Regions from separate parts of the Homo sapiens genome. Here region 1 is linked to region 2. Evidence: fine-mapped QTL for protein levels in blood plasma. A gene starts in region 2. The other region holds a variant in brackets. All regions are shown on one strand. Distances are from middle to middle.

What was found. PIP is the chance, under the fine-mapping model, that this variant and not a neighbour inherited with it causes the effect. Protein levels are from antibody-based Olink assays in UK Biobank. Linkage for the fine-mapping came from a reference panel and not from the study's own genotypes, which makes the PIPs less certain.
Region 1: its variant is fine-mapped to the plasma level of the F13B protein (UK Biobank, PIP above 0.99). The variant lies in the coding sequence of F13B. If it changes the protein, the assay may bind it differently, which can mimic a change of level.

Annotation. Positions count from the first base shown.
Region 1 is chr1:197,046,338-197,062,059 of GRCh38, forward strand. It overlaps F13B (coagulation factor XIII B chain), which reads right to left. Exons shown (of 12, transcript NM_001994.3): 3 at 15,447-15,632; 4 at 14,562-14,738; 5 at 14,029-14,205; 6 at 10,949-11,128; 7 at 10,676-10,861; 8 at 9,378-9,560; 9 at 6,297-6,497; 10 at 4,360-4,542. Among named protein-coding and RNA genes, the nearest start is that of F13B, 13 kb to the right of the region's middle. The variant A/G (reference allele first, on the strand shown) is at 10,822.
Region 2 is chr1:197,062,975-197,078,285 of GRCh38, forward strand. F13B (coagulation factor XIII B chain) reads right to left here and starts at 4,286. Exons shown (of 12, transcript NM_001994.3): 1 at 4,186-4,286; 2 at 1-83. The coding sequence starts at 4,249. RefSeq lists an enhancer at 5,394-6,593.

The DNA.
Region 1 (15,722 bases), 16 kb before region 2:
GCAAAAATCACAAGCATTCCTATACATCAATAATAGACAAACAGAGAGCCAAATTATGAGTGAACCCCCATTCACAATTACTTCAAAGAGAATAAAATACCTAGGAATCCAACTTACAAGGGATGTGAAGGACCTCTTCAAGAACTACTAACCACTGCCCAACGAAATAAAAGATGACACAAACAAATGGAAGAACATTCCATGCTCATGGATAGGAAGAATCAATATCGTGAAAATGGCCATGCTGCCTAAGGTAATTTATAGATTCAATGCCATCCCCATCAAACTACCATTGACTTTCTTCACAGAATTGGACAAAACTACTTTAAAATTCATATGGAACCAAAAAAGAGCCCGCATTGCCAAGACAATCCTAAGCAAAAAGAACAAAGCTGGAGGCATCAGGCTACCTGACTTCAAACTATAATACAAGGCTACAGTAACCAAAACAGCATGATACTGGTACCAAAACAGATATATAGACCAATGGAACAGAACAGAGGCCTCAGAAATAATGCACACACATACAACCATCTGATGTTTGACAAACCTGACAAAAACAAGAAATGGGAAATGATTTCCTATTTCATAAATGGTGTTGGGAAAACTGGCTAGCCATATGTAGAAAGCTGAAACTGGATCACTTCCTTATACCTTATACAAAAATTAACTCAAGATGCATTAAAAATTTAAATGTAAGACCTAACACCATACAAACCCTAGAAGAAAACCTAGGCAATATCATTCAGGACATAGGCATTGGCAAGTACTTCATGACTAAAACACCAAAAGTAATGGCAACAAAAGCCAAAATAGACAAATGGAATTTAATTGAACTAAAGAGCTTCTGCACAGCAAAAGAAACGATCATCAGAGTGAACAGGCAACCTACAGAATGGGAGAAAATTTTTGCAATCTATCCATCTGACAAAGAGCTACCATCCAGAATCTACAAAGAGCTTAAAAAGTTTACGAGAAAAAAACAACCCCATCAAAAAGTGGGCAAAGGATACGAACAGACACTTCTCAAAAGAAGACATTTATGCAGCCAACAGACATATGAAAAAATGCTCATCATCACTGGTCATCAGAACCACAATGAGAGACCATCTCACTCCAGTTACAATGGCGATCATTAAAATGTCAGGAAACAGCAGATGCTGGAAAGGATGTGGAGAAATAGGAGCGCTTTTACACTGTTGGTGGGAGTATGAACTAGTTCAATCATTGTGGAAGACAGTGTGGCGACTCCTCAAGGATCTAGAACTAGAAATACCATTTGACCTAGTGATCTCATTACTGGGTATATACCCAAAGGATTATAAGTCATTCTGCTATAAAGACAAATGCACAGATATGTTTTTTGCAGAACTATTCACAATAGCAAAACTTGGAACCAACCCAAATGTCTATCAATGATAGACTGGATTAAGAAAATGTGGCACATACACACCATGGAATACTATGCAGCCATTAAAAAGGATGAGTTCATGCCCTTTGCAGGGACATGGATGAAGCTGGAAGCCATCATTGTAAGCAAACTATTACAAGGACAGAAAACCAAACACTGCATGTTCTCACTCATAGGTGAGTGTTGAAGAATGAGAACACATGGACACAGGGCAGGGAATATCAAACACCAGGGCCTGTCTGTGGGGGTCTGGGGGAGGGATAGCTTTAGGAGAAATACCTAATGTAAATGAAGAGTTGATGGGTGCAGCAAACCAACATGGCACATGTATACCTATGTAACAAACCTGCACATTGTGCATATGTACCCTAGAACTTAAAATATTATATATATATATGTGTATATATATATACACACACACCTATATGGAGAGAGAGAGAGAAAGAGGGAGATGACCAATGGGATATACATGGAGTATAGTAACATACACCTAGTATAGAAAGTTGGTAGGGTTGGTAGGTATAAACAGAAATATATTAGTAATTACATGAATATGTAAATAGACTATTCCATTACAAGGGAAAAAATTATAAACTGCATAAGTATATTTTAAAATAAGGTATATATTGCTTATAAGAGAGGCACACTAAAAGTAAAAACCCAGAAGGTTGAAAGTTAAGGGATGGAAAAATGTGTACTACATGAATGCTTGTCAAAAGCCCCTTGGTGCAGCTAAAGGAGACCTCAAGGCAAAAAAAAAGGCAAAGCATTACTATATATGAAGGAGGTCTTTTAAAATTAGACAATGCCAATACACCAAGATACGAAGATTTAGTGTCTCAATTTGTGTGTGTACCTAATGAAATAGTATCAAAATACAAAAGCAAAAATGGACAGAACTAAAATTAGTAATGTTTTAAAATGCCAAGTGAGACTTTAACATGCTTCTCTCCGTGATTGATAGAAAACAAACACACACAAATCAGTACAGCTTTGGATTAACTTAAACATCAAAAACAAAACTCAATCCAATTCACATATATAAAACAGTGAACCCAACAATGACAAAGTTAACTTTTTTCAAGTATGAAAAGAACGTTTACCTAAAGCAAATACATGCTTGTTATAAAGCAAATATCAACAAATTTTAAAGTGCAGATATAATTCAAAGTATGTCTTAATTGAATTAAACTAGAAATCAGTAACCAAAAGAAAACTAGAAAATCCCCTAAATATTCAGAACTTTAAAAAGAAACTTCTAAATGATTCAGAGCACAGAGAATATATCAAAATGAATACTATAAAATTTTTGAGCTGAATGACAGTAAAAATCCAAGATATAAAAATGGTTTGGATGAAGTTAAAGTTGTGCTCAGAGAGAAATTTCTATTTTTAAATTCATGTATTAGAAAAAATATAAATGCTGAAAATTAGTAATCTATGTATTCATCTAAACAAGCCAGAAAAAGAGTAACAAAAGAAATCCAAGAACATAGAAGAAAGGAAATAATAAAGATAATAGCATAATTAATAAAATAGAAAGCAAAATTTGATGAATCAACAAATGCAAATGTTGGTTTTTTGAAAACACTAATAAAATGTATAGACCCTTAGCAAGGCATGTCAAGACAGATACATATTAATAGAAGTAATAACAAAAGATACATCAATAAAAACATCAAAAAGAGGATAGGAAGATGTCATAACTACTTTATGTTAGTAGATTTGACAATGTAGTTGTAATGAACCATCAAGAAACCACTCCCTACCAAAACTGACAGAAGAAGAAATAATTACCATTATTTGTTAAACAAATCGAAGCTGTCAATTTGTCTTTTCACGGAAAAACTCAAGTCCCAGATGGCTTCTCTGGTTAACTCTTAAAATTATAAAGGAAGAAATAGCATCAATCCAGAGAACCAGAAAAGACGGAACACTTCCCATTCATGGGATGAGGTCAGCACAGACTTGATATCAAACCAGAAAGGAAAATAACCAACCAGTCTTTCTCATGAAAATAGATGAGTAAAATATTGATAAATAAAAATATAACATATAATATGCATAATTTATCACAACCTTGTGGAATTTCTTATGGGAATAGAATCATGCTTTAACATTCAAAAGAAGCAATATAATTCATTAAATTTGCAGGGGAAAAAACAAAAGTAATAATTATGTAATTATTTCAACAGATATTGCTAAAAATTAAACACAGATTGAAGATTCTTTAAAAATACTTTCGGCAAAATAGAAAGAAAGGTTTTTATACCTTTAACTTGATTTTTAAAAAAATATTTATAACAACACATAGAGGTGAATTATCAAAGGTTTTACTTATGAGAATGGGAAGCAAATAAAGATATCCACTACCTCTTCCATTCAACATTGTACTGAAGTCCTAGCCAGTGAAAGAAGATAAGAGAAGTAAATAAAAGTCAGAATTGGAAATAAAAAATATTTTCTTATTATTTACAGATGTGCTATTTCATGCCTCTGAGGGCCTTAGTAAATGTTGTTACTCTTACTAGGATGCCTTGCTAATAAAACATTAACTTGCTTCATCTTTCCATATTGAGTTGTCCATTTCTTTATTTCCGCATTGTTTTCTATTATACATGTTTCCCTAATGTTTTCTATTATAGTACCAATCACAATGAATGATAATTGTTAAAGTTTACTCACACCACTATGGCTTATTCAACTTATAGCCCATACCAACCTGATGTGTGGTTTGTCTTTAAAAAAATATGTATTACAACAAACTGAACTATAGGTATTTATGATCTAGAGGAAAGAATAGAAAGCAGTGATAAAATAAGCACATGAATAAAATAACACAAATGTAGCAAATATAGCATTATATTAGTGTTATGTTAACTCAAAAATGACAGCAAATTAAAAATATATAGTTTTACTTTGTTAGAGGCATATTTAGTAGTACATACCTAAACACAATGGTGGTGTAGTCCACATTCCATCTAAACAATAGGCCTCCCTAGATCCTTCTAGGAAATGGTGATCAAAACATCTGTATTCTACTGAAGAGCCATTTTCATAGGTGTCTACTGTTGAACTAATAATGACTCCATGTTTAATAAGAGGAGGAGATGTGCACATTCCTTTAGATTCTGCAAAAATAAGTTTTAAAGTATACAATGAATTGCTATAATGAACATCCAGTACTTTATAAGTGCTACAGAGACAGAGTCTCCCTCTGTCACCCAGGCTGGAGTATGGTGGCATGATCATGACTCACTGCAACCTCTGCCTCCCAGGCTCAAGTGATCCTCCTGTCTTAGCCTCCCAACTAGTTGGGACTACAGGTGCATTTTTCTTTTGTAGAGACAGGGTCTCACTATGTTGCTCAGGTTGGTCTTGAATTCCTGGGCTCAAGAAATCTGCCCACCTTGGCCTCCCAAAGTGCTGGGATTACAGGCGTGAGCCACTGCACCTAGCCATAAAGCCATTTTTTAGGCAGTTCTCAAATATTTTTAAAATATTGAAGATGTTTTTGCAATAATATTATACCATACAATGTATTTTTATAATTAGAATCCCACGTTATAGTGTTTACATGCATATTTAAAACTATGAGAGTATTAACAATCATGATTTTATTTCTCCCTAAGTGTATATGGGATTTTTCTAGAAGCCATGATTTCTGTATATATTATTTTCCTTTTCTTCCTTATTAAAAGTAATAGTCCCTATAGCCAGTGAGTACTGAGACAATGGGTCCCCAGAAAGCCCTAAGTAGAGCAATGCTTTACAGTGTTTGTTGTTGAGTGCTCACAAGAAGGTGATCAATTCTCTGATAGTCTGGCAACATTTATAAAACCTCTTGATTTTTTCCCTTCATAAAATTGACTTATTGGAATTAAAAGATGTCAGCATGGCCATCCTATATAGGTATATATGCTGATTGAAGTTTGGAAGTTGGATCACTCCTCTCAACTTTATAGATTAGAATATGATGGTGGTGAATTGGGGTCATAGGTATAAATTTTCTCTAAAGATCAGCGATGTTGAGCTTTTTCCTCATATGTTTGTTGGCCACATAAATGTCTTCTTTTGAGAAGTGACTGTTTATATCCTTTGCCTACTTTTTGATGGTGTTGTTCGTTTTTTTCTTGTAAATTTGTGTTAAGTTCCATGTAGATTCTGGATATTAGACCTTTGTCACATGGGCAGATTGCAAAAATTTTCTCCCATTCTGTAAGTTTCCTGTTCACTCTGATGATAGTTTCTTTTGCTGTGCAGAAGCTCTTTAGGTTAATTAGATCTCATTTGTCAGTTTTGGCTCTCATCGCAATTGCTTTTGGCATTTTCGTCATTAAGTATTTGCCCATGCCTATGTCCTGAATGGTATTGCCTAGGTTTTCTTCTAGAGTTTTTATGGTTTGGGGTTTTTACATTTAAATCTTTAATCCATCTTGAGTTAATTTTTGTATAAGGTGTAATCACAATGAGACACCATTTCACACCAGTCAGAATGGCAATTACTAAAAAGCCAAGAAACAATAGATGCTGGTAAGGCTGGGGAGAAATAGGAATGCTTTTACACTGCTGATGGGAATGTAAATTAGTTCAACCATTGTGGAAGACAGTGTGGTGATTCCTCAAGGACCTAGAACCAGAAATGAAATTCGACGCAGCAATTCCATTACTGGAATTGCAAACCACCATGGCACACGTATACCCATGTAACAAACCTGCACATTCTGCACTTGTGTCTCAGAACTCAAAGTAAAATAAAATAAAATAAAACAAAATTAAAAAGAATAATAATAAGAAAAATAGCAACAAACTATAAATAAATTTTCAACCGAGGTAGCAGATATTGGTCAAGTAAAGATACTTGCAGAGAACATTATTATTTTACCTTTTCTAGTACATAAAGGATATTTCACTTCTCCTCTGTTGCACTGCACAGATAATTCAGACAATGGGGTTAATGGAGATAAGTCATATCCCTGTTTACATACAAAATCTATTAAATCTCCATGTAAGACTTTCCCTTCATATTTCCACTTCATTTCTATGTTATTTCTGTTCATGTAATCCACATTAACAGTACATGGTTCTGTAAAACAAAATGCTCTTTTAAATTCTTTACTTGTCTGACAAATATAAAAGTGATATTTTTTAAAACAAAAATTATGACAAGTTTCAAAAGCAATATTTTATAATTGAAATCATAATTAAGGCTTCTCTCACACACATATATATATAAGAAAATATATACTTTATTACTATCAAATGAATCTATACATTATTGTCATAAACTAAAACCACTTAATTTAAAACATCAAAAATACTATTTAAGGGCATCAATCAGTTAGATTAATAATAATTTTCTTTCTATAAAATAAAAACCTTTAACTACCATGTAGAAAATAATAGAAAACCTGCTAATGAATAAAACCAAGACTCCTGCTCCCATGGAGCTTACCTTCTAACTGGGAGAAACACCTACAATACATAATAAATATAATAAAGACATGAATTGTATAATTTGTGGCTGATATGGTTTGGCTGTGTGCCTACCCAAATCTCATCTTGAATTGTAGCTCCCATAATTCCCATATGTCATGGGAGGAACCTGGTTGGAGGTAATTGAATCCTGGGGTGGGTCTTTCCCATGCTGTTCTCATTACAGTGAATAAGTCTCATGAGATCTGATGGTTTTATAAAGGGGAGTTTCCCTGCACATGCTCTCTTGCTTGCCACCTTGTAAGACGTTCCATGCTTCTCCTTTGTCTTCTACCATGATTGTGAGGCCTCCCCAGCCATGTGGAACTGTGAGTGCATTAAATCTCTTTCCTTTATAAATTACCCAGTCTCAGGTATGTCTTTATTAGCAGCATGAGAACAGACTAACACAGTGGCCATCTTTAAACTACAGCATAAGATAAATTAGATGAAAAAAAGAGTACTGGAGCAGGAGGGGGTAACAAAAGAGCTAGGTGAAGAGAAGTTGCACTTTTCAGTAAGGTGATTAGGGTAGGCCTAAATAAGAAGTAAAAAAGCTTGAAGGGGACTTTGCACAAAAGCTTGAAGGAGACTGAGTGAACCATGTCATTTTCTTATGAAAGAGTGTCCCAAGCAAAGGGAACAACCAGTGCAAAGGCCCTGAAGTGAGAGCATTCTTGGCTTGTTTGTGGAAGAGTAAGGAGACCAGAAAGACTGGAGTGATTAGAGCAGGGAAGAGAGTATGGAGAGGTTAGAGAGACTCTTAATGTCTGGAATAATAATTCCTACAGAGAAAATTCTATGCTTTATCATACTGTTGTGAATTTGTACTGATAGCCTTTCCAGTTTCAATAGTTACCAAGATATACAAAGCCCCTTTCTCTTGCCCTGATAACAATGATTAATCTTCATTTGGTATTTGCTTTGATTCATTAGGACCAAACCTAACTCTCTTGAGGCAGTTGTTCCAGATATAGAATGATGTATTTCCTTAAATGTTGTTATTTCCTTATGAGCTTGTTTCATTACCAGCTTTGCCATAAATATTTTAATCTAGTCTTTGTCCTTAGAGATTACTATATCTCCACTCAATGCAATATCAACCAAAGCATCAAAAACTTAATATCAAAAACATTTATAAAAATATGAGACCAATAGCAAAATTCTATGTGAATATGTATCTGTATCTGAATTTGAATGGGAATCGACTCCTAAGAATTACTTGAAAGGTGGAAACTACTAACAAAAGGTTGAAAGAGCTCAAGACTTAAAACATACACTTATATATACTTAAAAACACTATAAATAAAAATAAATTAAAAATAATTGCAATAAACATGATTCTCAATTGGATAAAATAATTTATATATAGATTTATAAGTATGAAAAAATGGCTAAACTATGAATAATTAATTCATGTAAAAAAACCTGTGGCTACTAGAAAGTTAAAAAATTCCAAATTAATTAATTCTTAAATAAATCAAATTAAAATAATTGTGCTTGCCTGCTTAACAAAAAATGTCAAGATTAAAATATTCAAAGTTAACAAAGATTAGGATGATTACTACTTTAATTCACTTATGGTAGGGTTAACAAAGCAGAACAAACTTTCTGATAGACAATTTGCCAATTAATAGAAAAAGAATTAAAATTCCTGATCTCATGATAATTATTTTTAACAAAAATAAATATGTTTAACATGTACAAAGATTTACTTGAAAGTGTACTGTTTGGAATATAAAAATGTTGAACACTAAACATCCATCAATAAACTGGTTAAATTACATATGTATATCTGCATTATGGAATACTATGCAGCCATTAAAGTATATATTGTAGAAGTATGACAAACCATGTTTACAATATATTTTGAGTGAAAAAATCTAAGATATATACCTCTGCATCATATCATAGCATTTTGTGGAGTGTGTGCTTGTGTGTGTAAAACATTTAGAAGACCATTTATTATCTAAGTCATTAGCAAACACTTTTATATAATCAACAAGATGTAACAAACGTGTCCATTCAGATGAGGATGCGGTGGTAAAATTTAGCAATATACTCTATATAATATACTCTATAATATATTAGCAATATACTCTACCAAGGAAAGAATAGGACTAATTATTCTTCTTGAAATGACATTCTGAGGGCAATACAAGCAGAGATATTGAGGGCTGTATACCAGGGAGGGAATTTCAGCTAGGAGAAAGACAACCCAAAAGCTAATTGGTCACAAAAATGTTAATATACTTAATGCCACTGAATTGTACACTTAAAAATAGCTACGGTGGTAAATTTTATGTTATGTATATTTTACCACAATAGAAAAAATACACTAATATTTTAGGGACTTTCTACTTAAAGAAATGAGAGAGAAAACACTTGTGAAAAAAGATTTGTACAAAATCATCATTTTCATGATATAAAACACTGTAAGAAAATCACATAAAAGTACAAACGTAGACATTCCATGTGTTCTCTTTCTTACCCAAGCAAACAGGTGGGGATGACCATTTTCCTTGTTCGCAACGAGATATTTTTGATCCCCTCAGTAAGTAATATTCATTGCATCTATATTCCACTGAGGATCCTGTTGCATAGCTTGCCAATATCCCGTCTGCAACAGCCCCATTCATTACAACAGGAGGATGCTTACAATTCTCATTATTTTCTAAGAAAAGAGGTTGTTTTAAAATTAATATGAGCTCATAACAATATACTATAGTAACTCATACTATAGTGTCTCGATATTTGTATTATATAATTTAGGACAATTGTTTTATAAATTCATTACAAATATGAAAAATTTTTTCAGCTCAAATATTTTTAAAATTTGCTAAGCAAGAGTTGACAGCAAATATGTTACCTAAAAACAACTATACGTATTTTTCTCTTTTCTCAATTGTGAAGGAATTATGATATACACATTTCTTAAACCTATAGAATGAGAAACTGTTCTTCAACCTAAAGATTATGGTCAATTCTAAAATTGCTCTTTGGCATTACCCCACTTTTATTTTCTTCTTTTTCATTCCTCTTCATCTCAGGTCTCAATAGACCCATGAAGGAAATATCAATTTTTTTCCTCTTTTTGGTATCTTTCTCTCACTTTATCTATTTCTTTAGCATCCTTCATTGCTTTTGTCTTATTTAATAAATATCCTAGATAAACATGTGTGTGGAGATGTTGCTCTGATCTGATTAAGAAATGAGATAGATGACAGGAAGAGTAGTCTCCAGGAATGATAGTGTAGCCTGGTGGTGCCTTTCAGTAAAATGAAAGACCAGGGACATGTCTCAGAAGGGCATAAGGTTCAGAATGGCCAGATGCAAAATATCAGCAGGACTTACCCAAGGTCAAGAACAGAATGCACTACCCTAACTTTGCAGGACATATGGGGAGAAGAAGTAGATAATGCTCATGGCCCGTCACTCAATCCACCATGCCCTTATTTACTTATCTAATGAAGCACATCGTCATTTATGTGTTGTCATTTAGAACTTACAGGTAATGGCATGACACAGATCAGATAACCGTGCTTAGCACTAGCGTTCAAAAAAAACTTTTGTTTAAGAATTCTTTACATTGACTTAAATTCTACAGATAGCTACACATACAGGCACACACACATGCACACATGCAAAGCAGAAGAGTAGGTGCTGTAGCAATGTGTTTCTAATTTGCCTAAGCAGTGGTCTTTTCCTAGGAATATTCAGATTAAAGTAACAGAATGGAAAATTTTACACCATAAGTTTAGCTACTGATGGTAAATGTAGCATACATACCAACACACTCAGGAGGAAGTGTCCATTTTCCACGATTACAAGTTATCTCATTCGATCCATGGAGAAGGTAGCCGCTTTTACATGCATATGTCACTTTATCCCCATTGTAATAAATCTTAGAGTGTAAATTTGCTGCACCATTTTCA[A/G]TGAAGGGTGGTTCCTCACAGGCTACCTTCTCCTGTCCTTCTGAAAAGGTACAGTTGAAAGAGAACTGACCATTTAGCTACACATGCAGATTTCATTTTAGCAAAGCTTCTTCAAGGTGTTACTAACCAATGCATTTTGGAGGTTCTGTCCATTTTCCATCTTCACAACGTATTTCTGCTGACCCATGGATCTCAAAATTAAGTTCACATTCTATATGAACTATTTCTCCATGACGATAAGTTGTTGAATGTGTTTGAATTTTGGAGTTTATGGGCAGAGGTGGAGGAGGACATCTGTTTCTTCTTCCTTATGGAAAAAATTAATCAGCACCTTTAGTCATATAATTACAAAAAATAATAAAGATTAAATTAAAATATTCATCATGTCAAGCATCATAGAGAGAATGGCAGACTGATTCTAGGAGCATTCCTTTGATCCTCACCTCCTGATGTTAACTTCCTTGTGTGATACCCCTTTCCATGAGTAGGACCTGTGACTTGCTTCTAGCCCACAAAATACAGCAAAGGTGATGGATTAGTACGTGATTATGCACACATAATTATGTAACATCAGTTTTTAACGCCATTCTTGCCAAGAGACTCTCTATCCTTGCTGGTTTTGAAGAAACAAGAGGCTACATCATGAGCTTCCAAAGCAGAACGGCTGCAAGGCAAGGGGCAGAGGGCTGCCTTCAGTTAACAGCCACAAGAAACAGAGGCTCTCAGTTCAGCAGTCTGCAAAGCACTGAATGCTGCCAATAACTACAGTGAGTTTGGAAGAAGTCTTGCCCAGTCAAGCCTCAGATGAGACTGCAGTCCAGCTAACATCTTGATTGCAGCTTTGATAGCCATCGATGCAAGGAGTCGGTTAAGCCGCACCCAGACCCCCAACCTACACCCAATGGGAAATAATTTCTTTGTGTTGTTTTAACCTGCTGAGTTTGTGGTGACATTGTTACGCACCAATAGAATACTAACACAGCAGGCATTTTACATTCATTACCTCTTTTAGTCCTAAAATAACTTTATTAAGTAGGAACTATTATTTCTCCCATGTTATAGACAAACTAAAACTTATGAAGTAAATAAATTAATAGCATGTAGCAGATCTGTTCTTGAACCCACGTCTGTCTAAATTAAAGTCTCCTGCTCTAAAATACTGACCACACTACTTTCCTATTGCTGCTTTGATGAATTACAATTTAGTGGCTTAAAACAGCACAGATTTATCCTCCTACAGTCCTAGAGGCCAGAAGTCCAGAGTCAGTTTCACTGGACTAAAATCGAGATATCAGGAGAGCCACATTCCTGCTGGAGACTTTGGAGGAGAATCAGCTACTTTGCCTTTTCTAGCTTCTTGAAATCACCTGTATTCCTTGGCTCACAACCCCTTCCTCAAAACATTTCAACCTGTGGCTTCCATTGTCACATCTCCTGCTTCCTCTTCTGCAGTCAATCTCCCTCTGCCTCCCTTTTATAAAAGCATTTGTGATTATATTTAGAGTCTGGATAGATAGTTCCAGATAATATTCCTACCTTAAGATTGTTAACCTCAAAGTGTCTTGTACCGTGTAAGGTAACGTTTAATGGTTCTCAGTATTAGAATGTGGCTATATTTTGGGAGGAGTAAGAGAGATATAATTCAGCCCACAACTGAATTATATTGTTGTGGGCTGAATTATATTAGCCATTGTATGCCTAATGACTGTTTACCGGAAAAAACAGGCATGTTGTCATGCTGGCTAATTTGGAAGAGGAGAAGGGTATAAAAGGCCTTAAGTAGGTCTGCCATTTATTTTTGAAGTAGCACTTTGAGAGGCTGAGGCAGGCTGATCACCTGAGGTCAGGAGTTCAAGACCAGCCTGACCAACGTGGCAAAACCCTGTCTCTACTAAAAACACAAAAAAATTAGCTGGGCATGGTGGCCGACACCTGTAGTCCCAGCTACTCAGGAGGCTGAGGCAGGAGAATCACTTGAACCTGGGAGGTGGAGGTTGCAGTGAGCTGAGATCGTGCCACTGCACTCTAGCTTAGGCGACACAGCAGGACTCCATCTCAAAAAAATAAAAAATAAATAAGGAATAATAGACTTTAAAAAAATTTGCTTAAAAAATCTACTTCTCTACTACTATACCAAGGATGTCGAGCACAAATGAAAAATCATAAAATCTTTAAAGTTACTGTACAGTGCATTTAGGGAATTATGATAGTTCTGGCAATCCCACTGCATACCCATGGTCAGAGCCCTCATTTGTTTCCCCTAGCACCTGTTTCAAATCTTCACCACTTTCCTCCAAGTTCTACCTTCATGTCTTTCACCTGCCTGTCAATAGACCTTATATCCCATATTACAGAAAATAAAAAATGACTATCAAACCCTTTGCCTCACCCTATCCTCCCAATTCTCAAACTGCTACTTATCTCTTAAGACCCAACTTAAATATTGTCCATCACTTCTGTGAATGCTATTCCACAGCATACCAATCAGAATCTCTAATGTTTATTCCTGCACTTTGTACCTGAGTTGATTGTACCATTTGTCACATTATAGCAATTATTTTTTTCATATCTGCAATTACTGTTTTCATATCTTCTGCTAGTATAGGACCCTCCTCATATTAAATTGTAGGTTTGTTTAAATAACTATGGATGTCTTCTGACAGGTAATTGCATTACCTGTTTGGACACTTCCAGTAATAGAAATGTGACCATAGATATTACATTTTTGGGCAGCTTTTACAAGATGACCTCTTTTCCCATTTTCACTTCTGGGCATTATTCTTCTGCTTTTCCTGCTTTCTCTGCTTTCTACCTCACTATTTTGGAGATTAATTTTTACATCTGGAAATATGTGGCAAATTAAGAGAAAATATCCTTGCAAAGCTGCCAGATTGGGGTAATTAGTCCTAATAATTCCCAATAAGAAAAGTTATTCGTTATAATAAGGGATTTAAAATGTATAATAGATATTTTAAAATAATAAATTTAAAAGATATAGTCATTTACAAACTAAGACAAAACAAGATTTATTCAGGTGGGATATATTAAAGATTGCTGAAAATAGCACTGATTTAAAAGATAATATTTATTTTAAAAATAGGACTCAGGAAAAAAAATAGATATGACCACAGGAATTTTGTCAGAGCTAATAGAGATTAAAGCTGATAAAGACATGGCATTTTGCGAGTATTAAATTTAAAAATTTACCTTCGCATACAGGAGATTCTGGGTACCAACCAAAGTTATAGCATTGAATTAAATCAGATCCACTTAGATAATAATTTTCATGACAGAAAAACTGAACGACATCTCCTTCTTCATAGGTTTGCTTTACAGGATGAAAATAACCATTTTCAATTAATCTTAAAGAAGAGCACTTTAATTCTGCAAATAAAAGAATGAATAAAATTACAAACAAATGTTTATTTTTTCTGCTACAACAAAATGCACTATTTACATGACATAACTAGAATAGAAATTAAATTTGCCAAAAAGCTTATGAATTCATTTTATATATTTGTTAAATATCATTAGGCTTATTCTAATTTAATTCTGTGAGCTAAAATGAATTTATTCTACTTGAGAGCTTTAATTATCAAAGACTGCTATCAACATAATTAAAAATAAAGGCAAAAATGCATGAAAAGGTGAAACATAATGAGCATGACAACTTATATACACTTCTCTATGAGAAAAAGCTTTCAGAGTGAGAGTAGATTTTATTCCAAATGAGAACCTACTGGTACATTTTGGTGTGAGAGACCATCCGTATGTGAGACATTCTACCTCCTCTGTCTTCTTTCCTCCAGCTGTGTAGTAGCCAGTAGCACATTCGTATTGTACTTTGTCCTTCACTTTGAATGTTTTCTGTGTTGTGGAATAATTTCCATTATATAATTCAGGAGCCAAACATGTTTCTAAAATTATAAAAATTATTTATTTTATAAACTTTTTTAATAACCTAGATTATAAAAAATCTCAAAATATGGTTTTACAAATCTTAAGAATACATGGTAAAATCAACTCTTAGCAAAATTGAAAAATAGCCCCAATTTTTCTTTGCCTCTATTCTCTTCTTCATACACCTTGTGACCTAACTCTACCAGTTTTCTGTTTTTAAAATTCTAGTCTACAAGTGCTTGACCAAAGGCCAAAATTCAACTAAAGGCTTGTGCAGTAGCAATTGTGAAAGTATGTGCTGTCTATGCATTTTTACAATTTAAACAACTTACTAACAAAGTATACATATATTTAAATTATTGAACTATTTTTAAGTATATCTGACATTGGTTCACAATATAAAATAATGTACATGATCTTAAATTCTTCTGTAATAAAGGAAATAGTGACATATAAAGAAAAAGCTTCTTTCATTTTATTCCATTCCAATTCCTTTTATTGATGCAAAGTAGGAACTATTGGCGTAGGTGGGTTGTAGGGATTGAGAACATTTGGATTAAGGAATCACCTAGTACTTGAGAAAAGCAATGTAATATCAACTTCCTGCATTGTAGACATAATGAAAAATAAATTCTATTAAATAATAGATATCAATATAAGCTTCAATATATTCAATATAAGCTTGATAAGCACTTATCTTCAGTTTTAGGAAATGATTCTTATACCATGTTCTTTCCTACAGGTTGGTTGAGAAGACCATCCATCAGAGAGACATTGAACCACTTCTTCATCCTTCCCTCCAGTGGTTTTGTACCCTGAAGCGCAACCATAACGCATGTTCTCTTGAATTTTATACAATAACTTTACATCAGAGATGTAACCATTACTCAGGTCAGGCTTAGTGCATTTTTCTATGGGAAAAAAAATTATTTAACTTAATGATGAAACTAAGCTTGTCTTTTACTAAATTGTAAAATTAAGCCAAAAGTATAATGTTATTA
Region 2 (15,311 bases):
CATTGGAAAGTAAAAGCTTTTAAAAGTATAGTAATATTGGGCAATTCTTCCATTTTCCACATGAGGAAAACCACAGGGTTTCTCTGAAATGAGTAAATGTCAAGCTGAAAATGGAAAAACAAATCTAAAAACATAAATTTGTAATCAGGTGACAATACAAACTAAAAGTTTTTAGAGACACTTCAACTAGTACTTATTTTTCTTACTTAAATTTTTAAGGTACTTTTGTGACAACTCAAGCAGTCCTTTTATCATAATTGATCTGCAAATGACTTTAAACATCCAACAGTCATGATAAAATTTAGCAGACCACTTTTTCAGGGAAGCTTTGCATAACTTCGTAGAACAGTACTTTTTTTTTTCTTCCTAGACACAGAGTCTTCCTCAGTTATCCAAGCTTCAGTGCAGTGCTGAAATATAGCTCACTGCCACCAGGAGCTCCTGGGCTTAAGCAAGCCTCCTCTCCTGTAGCTAGGACTGCAGGCACATGCCACCACATCTGGCTAATTTTTGTTTTATTTTTTGTAGAGATGAGGGGTCTCACTCTGTTGCTCACGCTGGTCTCAAACTCCTGGACTCAAAGGATCCTTCTGCTTTGGCCTCCCAAAGCACTAGGATTACAAGACTTGAACCACTCCACCCTGCCTGCACTTCCTAATAGATATGTATTGTAAGTCACTTATGTAATTTAAAAATTTCTAATAGTCACATTCATAAAAATACTAAGGAACAATTGAAGTTAGTTTTAATAATAGGTTTTTATTTAACCCAATATATTGAAAATATTTTACATTCTTTTTTTTTCTAACTCTTTAAAATCCACTACATATTTATACTTACAGAATATCTGATCTTGAACTAGTGACATTTTAAGTACTGTCTCCAATAGCTATATGTGGCTGATGGCCACTGTATTGGACAGTACAGTTCAGGAATAGGTAAAGTTTCTCCTTAACATATGCTAACTCATAAAAAATTTTGAAATAAATAGCATTAAAAGAAAAAACAGACAACCAAGTAAAACAAAGCAATACTTGGCAAGAACTTGGCAAAATAGGATATTTAAATGGTTAGAGACCTGGTACTTAGCATTACTAGTCATCAGGGAAATGAAAATTTAAACCACCATGAGATACTACTGCATATCCAATAGAACTGCTGAAATGAAAAAGACAAGCTATCTCAATGATTGTGAAGAAGTGAAGAAACTGGAACTCGCATATTTCTACAACTGAAAGTATAAATCAGTCCAAACTCTATGAGAGAACACCTTTGCAATATATATTGGGGTAAAACATGTACAAACCATATTACCCAATAAAAAAAGCACATATTTGTATACCAAAAGACATGGAAAAAAATGCTTATAGTGGCAGTATTCATATAGTCCCAAACTGGGAACAATCTAAATGCCCATAAATAATAGAAAAGATAAACACATTTTAGACTATGCATACAATGGAATATTATCCAACAACAGAAATGAACAAATGGTGAATCTCATAAACATAATATTGAGTGAAAGAAGCCAATCACATATGAATTAATGTATACATTTGCATAACTTTTTAAAAGAAAACAAACTAATCCATGATAATAGAAGTCAGAATGGTTACCTTTGGGGTTTAGTGCCTTAGAAGGATCATATTTCTGGGGTACTATCACTGTTCTATATCTTGATCTGGATGGTGTAAAATTTTGTAAAAACTATATAAGTGTATCCTGTGATTTTTGCATTTTTCTGGATATGTTATACTCCAAATAAAACATATATTTTAAAAATATATCTTTATGTTGAAGATCTTAAAGTCATAAAAACACTTAAAAGAAAGAAATGCTCGAACAATCCTAGGAGCTGTGGTGGGAAGAAACATGGGCAGTCATGGATGGAAGAAGGCCTAGATCCAGTGTGATTACTACGGCTTCAATGCCTTGGTTGATCACTGTATACCTTAATGCTACTATGAGACATAAAATACTAGTAGTGCTAGCCTAGGTTTGAAGGAAATGGATGTGGAATGATGAGCAACAAAACTTCCACTATCTGATGGAGCAGACAGAAAAACATGGGCTGGATAGTCCCCATTCCTTGAGAATTATTCTCACCATTTTTTCACACCCAAGCACCAAAGGAATTTACAATAAAAAGAGTCTTCCAAAATAGCAGTGCAATGGTGAATACACAAGAAATTTCCCTGAGGGGCACAGTTGCTTGTCAGGGAGGGGCAGCAAAGTATTCTCTGCACAACAATCCTAGGTTGTGGCTTTAAAGACTCTCTGTCCTGGGACATCTCCCTCCACCACCAGGATAGGCACATTATTTGTTAAGGTAGCTGGAATGCCTTGGAGAATATGAATTCCTGACAAAAAATTAATGAGAAATGTGAGGAATATACTAATCACATATAAACCAGGAAATCACAGATGTCTGAACATATTAAAAAAAGTACATGAAGCGATGGACACACTTACTACTGATCAGAGAATGGTAAATAAATAAAAATGGGATATCACTTTATGAATAACCATATAGCAACCAGTACAAAAATGGACAATATGAGGTGTTGGTGAGAATGATGAGGAGCAACAATTTACATCCTCTCTCAGAGATGATATACTTCAAAACTGCCATTCTGCAAAAGTAATCTCTCATTACAGAAATCAAGTACAAGAATAGACTCAATAATGCTATCTGTGAGTGAATACAGACTGATGACATTCTTACAGAAAGATAAGTTGGTTATATTACAATATTCATTCCAGAGCTATTTGTGGTTGAGAGAGCTAGAGTAACATGTTAAAACATTGTAGTAGGTCCCAGGGGAAATGGACTTCAAGATTAGGAATAAGGGGATAAAATGTGTAAGTAAAGCAAGAGTGAGACCTTTCATAGGCCAATAATACTTGCATACCATGAAATGAGAAACACAATTAATTCAATTCTTGTCCCTGAAGTGCACAATGGGAGTTGAGAGAAGCATGCAAAAATAAAATCATTGTCTTGGTCTTCAAGCAGCTTACTTTTTTTTTTGTTGTGTAAAATAGCATTATAACCTTATAATAATTAGAAAATTAACTAGAATATTGCAATGTCTTTATGGTATAGATAACAGACAATTATATCTGCTGGTATTTCCCTATTTAGACAGAAAAATAAAATCAAAAGAAATTCATGCAAAAATCATCCTATTATAGAATTAAAAGTATAAAATAAGATTAATTCTGTGTCTTTCACTTTTATAATTTTAATTATAGATGTTTTGGTAGAAAATTTATAGTTAACTATTCAACTAAAACACAGTTAAAACTTATGTATTTAATTTCAACAAATTCCCAAAAATGTTTATTTTAGAAAAGCTGTATTGCTGTAGCTTCCTTCTTTGTATGTTCACTCTTGCTAATGCTAAGTGTCCTCCCTGGATTCTTCATCCTATGGCCTGATAATATTGATAATGTTCCTGAACAACATACCCATGTACACTGCCTAGCTTCCACTCGCACACTAATCTTACACATTGGGCAATCTGACTATAAAGCTTTCTAATAGGGAGTCCATAGGTATTGGTTTGTTTGGAAAGTCCTGATTTACATGTGTTGTCCAAACAGTTATTAATAGAGCCCCTCTTTTACTCTCTAAGTGTCCCTGTTTGTACAAGCAATTATATGGTTCACCTACTAATCACTACTTAATGTCTCCAACAAATGAATAATTCATTGTGATAAAAATCAAAGTCTCAAAAGTAAAAAATATTTATGGCTATTTCCTTTTCAAATTTCCCACATTAAACTCTCACCTTATGAACAGAATTAAAATTGTACAAGTTTTGTCAGTATTAGGAATGGATTCTAGCATAAATTTAGAATTAAAGTTAACATGTGACTTCGAAATGGACATATTGTTAACCTGAAAACCTTTTCGAAGTATTTAGATCCTGGTCTCCTATGCCCCCTAGAGATACAAGGGTTTTTGTTTTGTTTTGCTTTTCTGACTTATGCTACTGTAAGAACACTTTACTAATTTTGCTCAAAGGAAAAGGTCTAAATATTATAAAAAGTTATATTTATAAAATATGTTATAAAATTGATAATGAAAATAGAAGAGTATATTAAAACTTGAGTTGTATAAATATTAGAATCTCCATTTGTATGTTTTAGAGAATAAAGAATATTAAGAATTAATTTTACCTTCTGCATAGAGTTCTCCTGAGATTATCAATATGATGATAAAAGTCAGGTTTTTCAACCTCATCTTCAGTGGTGTGCTTCACAAAGATTTTAACAATTCTAAGCACTAGGAACTTGTCATTAAGTACACAATACTTCTCTTGAGGAAAAAGTTAATAATTTATAACCTCTGTCTAAGTCCTTTTGTAACGAGTCTTATATTTCACTTAAAATATTTTGAAATAATGTTAAAATAACACAACTATATTAATTGACATTACTTACCATGTCAGAGTCCAGTAAGAGCATGATAACTGATTAGGGCAACAATAGCAGCAGAATAAATAATAAATTATAGCAGCAGAATAAATAATACTAGGTAAATTTTCAACCTAAGTTCCCAATTGTAAATTCATAGAGTAAAGTTCACTTGAGGCCATAGATCTTTACTAATATTGATCAGGTAAAAAGATGAACTTAGGAACATGAGATAACAGATACCTGATGTTGAAATATGTTGTTGCCTAGACTGCACTCCTTAAAGAGATACAGAACCATAGTTGTCTCAATGATAGAATAGTATTACTTATAATAGTAGTGTTTGACATTTAGAGAGTTTTTACTTTGTGGCAGGTGGTGAGATCAGCACTGTGCTATATCAACATTCATTCATGAGAAATGTTTAGAACGTCCATGATAATGGCAGCACATGTAACAGTTTTGAGGTATTTAGCAGTGAAAAAACTGGATTAAAATTATTGCCCTCATGGAGTTTACATTCTAATGAGTTTTAATTTAAAATACAAAATAGGAAAAAATGGTGGATAGGAGGCAGGACTAACTTGCAGCTCCCACTTGGATGGACAGAGCAGGATGTGGAGACTCGCATTGTGAACTTTTGCTCCAAGAACTGCTGCAAGGATATAACAGGAAAGCCAAGATAATCCACAGACCCTCTGAAGAAAGTATATTGCTCCTGCATGACCCAGAAAATAGCCCACATACTGTGAATGCCCAAACTGTGAAAAGTGTGAAAGGGGTATTGTCCACCCCTGAACACACACCCTTGGGGAACCTGAAGGTCTAGATCACAGGAGAAGGATTTGACCTTACCTGGAGCTCAGACAATTTAGAGAGCTGAGCGAAATACAGGGGTAGAGGAAGCAAAGGGTAAAGCCCCATCGTCTCTGTGGGTCCCCAGAGAAGCCATTTCTGACTTGTCTCACAGGGGCTGCCGGAGGAACTGGGAAAAGACCACAGGGAGAAGGAAACCTCCAGCTGAACTTAGTAACAATTCCAACCGAACACAAACTTTCCTGTCCAGAACTCAGGAAAGGGCGTGAATCTGGTGTGCAGACTTAACAGGTAGGGAGGCACAAAAGTCTGGCTTGCATTCTCAGCTGGGAGGCTAGTAGCCTGGGGCAAGTTCTCAATCCTGCTCCCCTACTGCCTGGAAACAAATTCGGTGCTTTTTGGGGGAACACAGTAGAAGTGAGATTTGCTTGTTGGGTTGTGTGAGAGCTGGGTGAGGTCTGTAACTGCCAGCTTTCCCCCACTTCCCTGACAACCTGCATGACACAGAAGAGGCAGCCATAATCCTCCTGGGAAGGTAACTCCATTAACCTGGGAATCACACCCCCATTCCCCACAGAGCCACAACAAGCCCCACCCAAGAAGACTCTGAGCTCAGACATGCCTAACCCTGCCCCCACCTGATGGTCCTTCCCTACCCACCCTGGTAGCTGAAGACAAAGGTCATATTCTCTTGGAAGTTCTAGTGTCCCACCCACCACCTGATCCTCCCCTATATACCACAGCTGATGCTCTCATGAAAGCACTACCTCATGGCAGTGTGTCTGGAATTGGTTCCTTCCAATGGGTTCTTGGTCTTGCTGACTTCAAGAATGAAGCTGCGGACGCTTGCGGTGAGCATTACAGTTTTTAAAGATGGTGTGTCCGGAGTTTGTTCCTCTGATGTTCAGATGTGTCCAGAGTTTCTTCCTTCTGGTGGGTTCCTGGTCTTGCTGACTTCAGGAGTGAAGCCGCAGACCTTCACAGTGAGTGTTACAGCTCTAAAAGATGGTGCGTCCGGAGTTGTTTCTTCCTCCTGGTGGGTTCGAGGTCTTGCTGACTTCAGGAGTGAAGCCACAGACCTTCGCGGTGAGTGTTACAGCTCATAAAGGTAGTGCAGACCCAAAAAGAGAGCAGCAGCAAGATTTATTGCAAAGAGCGAAAGAACAAAGTTTCCACAGCCTGGAAGGGGACCAGACCAGGTTGCTGCGGCTGGCTCGGGTGGCCAGCTTTTATTCCCTTATTTGGCTCCGCCCACATCCCGCTGATTGGCACATTTTACAGAGTGCTGGTTGGTCTGTTTTTACAAAGTGCTGATTGGTGCATTTACAAACCTTTAGCTAGACACAGAGCGCTGATTGGTGTGTTTACAATCCTTTAGCTAGACAGAAAAGTTCTCCAAGTCCCCATTCGACCCAGGAAGTCCAGCTGGCTTCACCTCTCAGCAGGAGGCCAACCAGCACCAAACTAGTGCATCAAACAACTACAACTAAGGACCCTCACAGAGTTCCTTTCACTCCCCTGCCACCTCTACTGGAACAGGTGCTGGTATCCATGACTGAGAGAACTGAAGACAGTTTACATCACAGGACTCTATGCAGACAACCCCCAGTACCAGCCCAGAGCCTGGTAGCCCTTCTGGTGGCTAGATCCAGAAAAGTAATAATAATCACTACAGTTTGGCTCTCAGGAAGTCACATCCCTAGGAAAAGGGGGAGAATACTACATCAAGGGAGCACCCCGTGGGACAAAAGAATCTGAACAGCAGCCTTGAGCCCCAGATCTCCCCTCTGACATAGCCTACCCAAAAGAGAAGGAACTAGAAAAACAATTTTGGTATTATGACAAAACAAGGTTCTTTAACACCACCCAAAAATCACACTAGCTCATCAGCAATGGATCCAAACCAAGAAGAAATTCCTGAACTGCCAGAAAAAGAATTCAGAAGTTTGATTATTAAGCTAATCAAGGAGGCACCAGAGAGAGGTGAAATCCAACTTAAGGATATCAAAAAAATGACACAAGATATGAGCGGAGAAATCTTCAGTGAAATAGATAGCATAAATAAAAAACAGTCACAACTTCAAGAAATAAAGAACACACTTAGAGAAAAGCAAAATGTACTGGAAAGTCTCAGCAATATAATAAAACAAGCAGAAGAAAGAACTTCAGAGCTTGAAGACAAGGTTTTCGAAGTAATCCAATCCAAAAAAGACAAAGAAAAAAATTTAAGTGAATAAAGCCTCCAAGAAGTTTGGGATTATGTTAAATGACTAAACCTAAGAATAATTGGTGTTCCTGAGGAAGAAGAAAAATCTGAAAATTTGGAAAACATATTTAGGGAAATAATTGAAAAAAAAAAACTTCCCTGGCCTTGCTAGAAATCTAGCCATCCATACACAAGAAGCTCAAAGAACACTTGGGAAATCATCATAAAAATATCATTACGGCCGGGCACAGTGGCTCATGCCTGTAATCCCAGCACTTTGGGAGGCCGAGGGAGGTGGATCATGAGGTCAGGAAATCAAGACCATCTTGGCCAAAATGGTGAAACCCTGTCTCTACTAAAATACAAAAAAAAAAAAAAAATTTAGCTGGGCATGGTGGCATATGCCTGTAACCCCAACTACGTGGGAGGCTGATGCACGGCAATTGCTTGAACCCAAGAGGTGGAGGTTGCAGTGAGTTGAGATCGTGCCACTGCACTCCAGCCTGGCGACAGAGCAAGACTCCATCTCAAAAAAAAAAAAAAAAGATTATTGCAGCTAAGTGTGGTGGCTTATGCCTGTAATCTCAACACTTTGGGAGGATGAGGTGGGCAGATCACGAGGTCAAGAGATCAAGACCGTCTTGGCCAACATGGTGAAACCCCATCTTTACTAAAAATACAAAAATTAGCTGGGCGTGGTGCCATGCCTGTAGTCCTAGCTACTCAGGAGGCTGAGGCAAGAGAATCACTTGAAGCCAGGAGGCAGAGGTTGCAGTGAGCTGAGATCGCGCCACTGCACTCCAGCCTGGCAGCAGAGCGAGACACCATCTCAAAATAAATAAATAAATAAATCTTCACCTAGGCACATAGTCATCAGTTTATCTGAAGTCAAGACGAAAGAATCTTAAGAGCTGTGAGGCAAAAGCACCAGGTAACATACAAAAGAAAACCTATCAGATTCACAGCAGATTTCTAAGCAGAAATCCTATAAGCTAGAAGGGATTGGGGACCTATCTTCAGCCTCCTTAAAAAAAATAATTATCAGCTAAGAATTTTGTATCCAGAAAAGCTAGGCTTCATAAATGAAGGAAAGATACAGTCTTTTTTAGACAAACAAATGCTGAGAGAATTTGCCACTACCAAGCCAGCACTACAAGAACTGCTGAAAAGAGCTCTAAATCTTGAAACAAATCCTGGAAACACAACAAAACAGAGCTTCATTAAAGCATGAACCTCACAGGACCCATAAAACAAAAATACAGTAAATAAATAAATACTTAAATAAATAAAATCAAGGTATTCAGGCAACAAATAGCATGATGAATGGAATGGTACCTCACATTTCAATACTAATGTTGAATGTAAATGGCCTAAATGTTCCACTTAAAAGATACAGAATTGCAGAATGGGTAAGAATTCACCAACCAACTATCTGCTGCCTTTAAGAGACTCACCTAACACATATGGACTCACATAAACTTAAGGTAAAGGGGTGAAAAAAGACACCCCATGCAAATGGACACCAAAAGTGAGCAGGAGTAGCTATTCTTATATCAGACAAAACAAACTTCAAAGCAACAGCAGTTAAGAAAGACAAAGAAGGACATTATATAATGATAAAAGGCCTTGTCCAACAGGAAAATATCACAATCTTAATTATACATGTACCTAACACTGGAACTCCCAAATTTATAAAACAATTACTACTAGACCTAAGAAATGAGACAGACAGCAACACAATACTAGTGGGGGACTTCAATATACCACTGCACTAGATATGTCACCAAGACAGAAAGTCAACAACAACAACAACAACAAAATGGATTTAAACTATACCCTGGGACAAATGGACTTAGCAGATATATACAGAAGATTCTACCCAACAACCACAGAATATACATTCTATTCATCAGCACATGGAACTTTCTACAAGATAGACCATATGATAGGCCACAAAATGAGCCTCAATAAATTAAAAAAAAAAATTATGTCAAACACTCTCTCAGACCACAGTGGAATAAGGTGAAAATTAACTCCAAAAGGAATCTTCAAAACCATGCAAATACATGGAAATTAAATAACCTGCTCCTGAATGATCATTGGGCCAACAATGAAAGATGGAAATTAAAAAATTATTTGAACTGAATGACAATAGTGACATAACCTATCAAAACCTCTGGGATACAGCAAAAGGTGGTGCTAAGAGGAAAGTTCATTGTCCTAAAGGCCTACATCAAAAAGTCTGAAAGAGCACCAACAGATAATTTAAGGTCACACCTCAAGGAACTAGAGAAATAAGAACAAACCAAACCTAAGCCCAGCAGAAGAAAGGAAATAACCAAGATCAGAGCAGAACTAAATGAAATTGAAACAAAAAAAATTGTTTTAAATATGAATGAAACAAGAAGCTGGTTCTTTGAAAAGATAAATAAAATTGATAGACCATTATATTAACCAAGAATAACCAAGAAAAGAAGGAATAAAATCCAAATAAGTTCAATTAGAAATGAAACGGGAGATAATACAACTGACACCACAGAAAAAGATCAGTCAAATCTACTATGAACACCATTACATGCATAAACTAGAAAACCTAGAAGAGATGGGCCGGGAGCGGTGGCTTACACCTGTAATCCCAGCACTTTGGGAGGCCGAGGCGGGAGGATCACGAGGTCAGGAGATTGAGACCATCCTGGCTAACACAGTGAAACCCCGTCTCTACTAAAAATACAAAAAAAAAAATTAGCCGGGCATGGTGGTGGGCACCTGTAACAGCTCCCAGCTACTAGGGAGGCTGAGGAAGGAGAATGGCGTGAACCTGGGAGGCAGAGCTTGCAGTGAGCCAAGATCCCGCCACTGCACTCCAGCCTGGGCAACAGAGCAAGACTCCATCTCAAAAAAAAAAAAAGAAAAAGTAAAAGAAAAAGAAAACCTAGAAGAGATGAATAAATTCCTGGAAAATACAACCCTCCTAGCTTAAATCAGGAAGAATTAGATACCCTGAACAGACCAATAACAAGCAGTGAGATTGAAGTGGTAACAAAAAAATTACCAACAACAATTCCAGGGCCAGGGATTCACAACAGAATTATACCAGACACTCAAAGAAAAATTGGTGCCACTCCTATTGACACCATTTCACAAGACAGAGAAAGAGGGAATCCTCCCTAATTCATTCTATGAAGCCAGTATCACCCTAACACCAAAACCAGGAAAGGACATGACAAAAAAAAAGAAAACTACAGGCCAATATCCCTGGTGAACACAGAAATAAAAATCCTTAACAAAATACTAGCTAACTGAATCCAATAACATATCAAAAAGATAATCCACAATGATCAAGTGGGTTTCATACTGCAGGGATTGTTTAACATACATACCCAAGTCAGTAAATGCGATACACCACATAAACAGAATTAAAAACAAAATCACATGATCATCTCAGTAAACACAGTAAAATCATTTGACAAAATCCAGCATCCCTTTATGATTAAAACGCTTAGTGAAATTGGCATACGAGGGACATACCTCAATGTAGTAAAAGCCATCTATGACGAATCCACAACAAACATAATACTGAATGGGGAAAAGTCGAAAGCATTCCCTCTGAAAACTGGAACAAGATAAGGATGCCCACTCTCACCAGTTCTCTTCAACATAGTGCTGGAATTCCTAGCTAGAAAAATCAGACAAGAGAAAGAAATAAAGGGAAACCAAATTGGTAAAGAGGAAGTCAAACTTTCACTGTTTACTGATGATATGATTGTATATCTAGAAAACCCTAAGGACTCCTCCACAAAGCTCCTGGAACTGATGAAAGAATTCAGCAAAGTTTCTGTACACAAAATTAATGTACACAAGTCAGTAGCTCTCCTATACACCAACAGCAACCAAGCTGAGGATCAAATCAAGAACTCAACTCCTTTTACAATAGCTGCAAGAAAAAAAAAATACAAAAAATACTTAGGAATATACCTAACCAAAAAGGTGAAAGGCCTCTACAAAGAGAACTACAAAACACAGCTGAAAGAAATCATAGATGACACAAATGGAAACACATCCCATGCTCATCGATGAGTGGAATCAATATTGTGAAAATGACCATACTGCCAAAAGCAGTTTACAAATTCAATGCAATTCCTATCAAAATACCATCATCATTCTTCACAGAACTAGAAAAAACAATACTAAAGTGTATATGAAACCAAAAAGAGAGCCCACACACCCAAAGCAAGACTAAGCAAAAAGAACAAATCATTTGGAGGCATCATGTTACCTGACTTCACACTATACTATAAGGCCATAGGCACCAAAACATCATGGTACTGGTATAAAAATAGGCACATAGACCAATGGAACAGAATGGAGAACCCAGAAATAAACCCAAATAGTTACAGCCAACTGATCTTCAACAAGTCAAACAAAAACATAAAGTGGGAAAGGACACCCTATTCAACAAATGGTGCTGGGATAATTGTCAAGCCATATGTAGGAGAATGAAATTGGATACTCATCTCTCACCTTACACAAAAAAAATCAACTCAAGATGGATCAAGGACTTAAATCTAAGACATGAAACTATAAAAATTCTAGAAGATAACATTGGAAAAACCCTTTTAGACATTGGCTTAGGCAAAGACTTCATGACCAAGAACCCAAAAGCAAATGCAACAAAAACAAAGATTAATAGATGGGACTTAATTAAACTAAAGAGCTTCTGCATGGCAAAAGGAACAGTCAGCAGAATAAACAGGGAGAAAGTCTTCACAATCTATGCATTTGTCAAAGGACTAATGTCTAGAATCTACAAAGAACTTAAACAAATAAGCAATAAAAAAAAAAAACAATCCCATCCAAAAGTAGTCTAAGGACATAAACAGACAATTCTCAAAAGAAGATATACAAATGGCCAACAAATGTGTGAAAAAATGTTCAACATCACTCATGATCAGGAAATCCAAATCTAAACCACAATGCAATACCACCTTACTCCTGCAATGGCCATAATAAAAAAATAATAATAATAGATGTTGGTGTGGATTCAGTGAAAAGGGAACACTTCTATACTGTTGGTGGGAATGTAAACTAGTACAACTACTGTGGAAAACAGTGTGGAGATTCCTTAAAGAACTAAAAGTAGAACTACCATTTGATCCAGCAATCCCATTACTGGTTATCTACCCAGAGGAAAATAAGTCATTATACAAAAAAGATACTTGCACAAGCAGGTGATGTTAATAACATCACAATTCACAATTGCAAAAATATGGAACCAGCCCAAATGTCCATCAACATCAATCAATGAGTGGATAAAAAATTGTGATATATATACAGGATGGAATACTACTCAGCCATAAAAAGGAATGAGTTAATGGCATTCACAGCAACATGAATGGAACTGGAGACAATTATTCTAAGTGAAGTAACTCAGAAATGGAAAGCCAAATATCATATGTTCTCACTCATAATTGGGAGCTAAGCTATGAGGATGCAAAGGCATAAGAATGATACAATGGATTTTGGGGATTCTGGAGAAAGGTGGAAGGGGGCTGAGGGATAAAACACTACAAATTTGGTTCAGCGTATACTGGTTGGGTGATGGGTGCACCAAAATCTCACAGATCACTGCTAAAGAACTTACTCATGTAACCAAATACAGCCTGTTCCCCCAATAGCCTATGGAAATAAAAATAAAATAAAATAGAGTACAAAATAATTCTGCAAGGCAGAAGCTATTATTATTTCAATTTTGTATTTTTTATTAAATGTATTAACAGAAAAGTGTACATATGTTAAGAATTCTCACAAGTCTAAGACATCCATGAATCCACAACCCAGAACAAAGAAGGAATATACCAGCACCCCAAAATCCCCCTACCAAGTTACTGCCTACATCTACCCTAGTGTTAAACATTATCTTGACTTCTAATAACATAGATCAATCAGTAGTTTTATACTATATAAATGGAATCATATGGGAAATACATGTATATTTTTATGTCTGGTTCCTTTTGTTTAACATTTTGGTTCTGAGATTTATCCATTTGAGGATACAGTAGATAGCACCTTTTCTAAATAGTATTGCATTCTGTAAATATGCCATAATTTATCCATTCAACTATTTATGTAAATTTGGGTTACTTACAATTTATAAAAATCATTGACATCTGCTTATTTTCAAATATTTTTTTCACACAAAACCTCTACCTAGATGCTATCATTAACATTTTACTATCGTTTTCTTACTAATTTTTAAATGCTTCAATTAACCTAATTTTTCAACAATAGGTCTCCAGAATGTATTCATTTTGCATAACTGAAACTTTGTTGCCTTTGACCAAAACCTCTTTATTTTCTCTTCCCTGCAATCCCCTAGCAACCACCACCATTTTACTCTCTGTTTCCACTTGTTTGACTGTTTTAAATTCCACACATAAATGAGAGGATGGAGTATTTGTCTTTCTGTGTCTAGTTATTTCACTCCACATAATGTCCTCCAGGTCCATCCTTGTTGCTGTCAGTGGCAGGATTTTCTTCCTTTTTTAGACTGTATAATATGTCATTGTATGCATATAAAGTTGAGCCTTAAAAAAGTGGGGGTTAGGGCTGCTGACTCTCTGCACAGTCAAAATTCTACATATAACTTGACTCTCCCAAGACTTAACTACTAATACCATGTTGTGAACTGAAAGCCTTACCAATAACACAAATAGATGATTAACACACTTTTTTTATTATATGTTATAGACCATATTCTTACAATAGAGTAAGCTAGAAGAAAGAAAATGTAACTAATAAAATCATAAAAGGAGGAAATATATTTACTAAGTGAAAGTGGATCATCATAAAGGCTTTATCCTTGTCATCTTCATTTTGAAAAAAGGAGGAGTTATTCTTGTTGTCTCAGGAGTGGCAGAGGCAAAAGAGGTGGAAGAAGTGGAAGTGGAAGCAGGAAAGGCAGGCAAACTTTGTGTAACTTTATGGAAATGCATTGTAATCTCTGATGTTTTCTTTTTTCATTTCTCTAAAAATGTTTCTACACAGTACCAATCTTTCTTTCCCCATTTGCTTTAGTTTCTCTGCCCATATCATAGAAGGGTCCATGTCATAAAAGAAGTCAAAAGCAGTCTTGAATAATCAGAACCCTTCTGCCAGATTGTCTAATGTAAATTTGTTTTCTGGCACTGCTTCTTCTCTATCTTCTTCCTCATAATTTGGCACTGGTTCAGAAGCCCTCTTCTCCATCAAGTCTTCTATTAATTTCTCTGCTGTGGTGTCTATTACCTCTTGAATTTCTGCAAAATTCATATCTTTAAACCTTTCACTCCTTACCTTTTTTTTTTCTTTTGCCATATCCACACTCTTCCTTGATTGGCTCCATTGTAAATCCTGTGAAGGCATGCACATCTGGACAGTTCTCTGCAGCAGGAATTTATTGTTTTATGATCGATGGCATTCACAGCTATTTATACAACAACAAATGACATCTTCAGTAGTGTAATTCTTCCAGACTTTTATGATGCTCTTTCTTTCAGGGGTTCTCTATCTGGATTCTCTTCCAGAGCATTGACAATCTTTTCCATATGGTAATGTGTGTAATGAGCCTTAAAGATCCTTATAACCCCTGATCTAGAGGCCAAATTGAGTTGTATTTGGGGGAAAGAAGATGACTTCTACCTCTTCACTGTTGAACTCATGCGGTTTTGCATGGCTGGGGCATTGTCCAATATCAAAAGTACAGTAATAGGAAGTTCCTTACTGGCAAGGTACTTCCTAGCTTCAGGGACAAAGCATCCATGGAACCAATCCAGAAATAGAGTTCTCATTGTTCAACTGAGGTTCTCTTGTCATACAACCAAGAGACTGG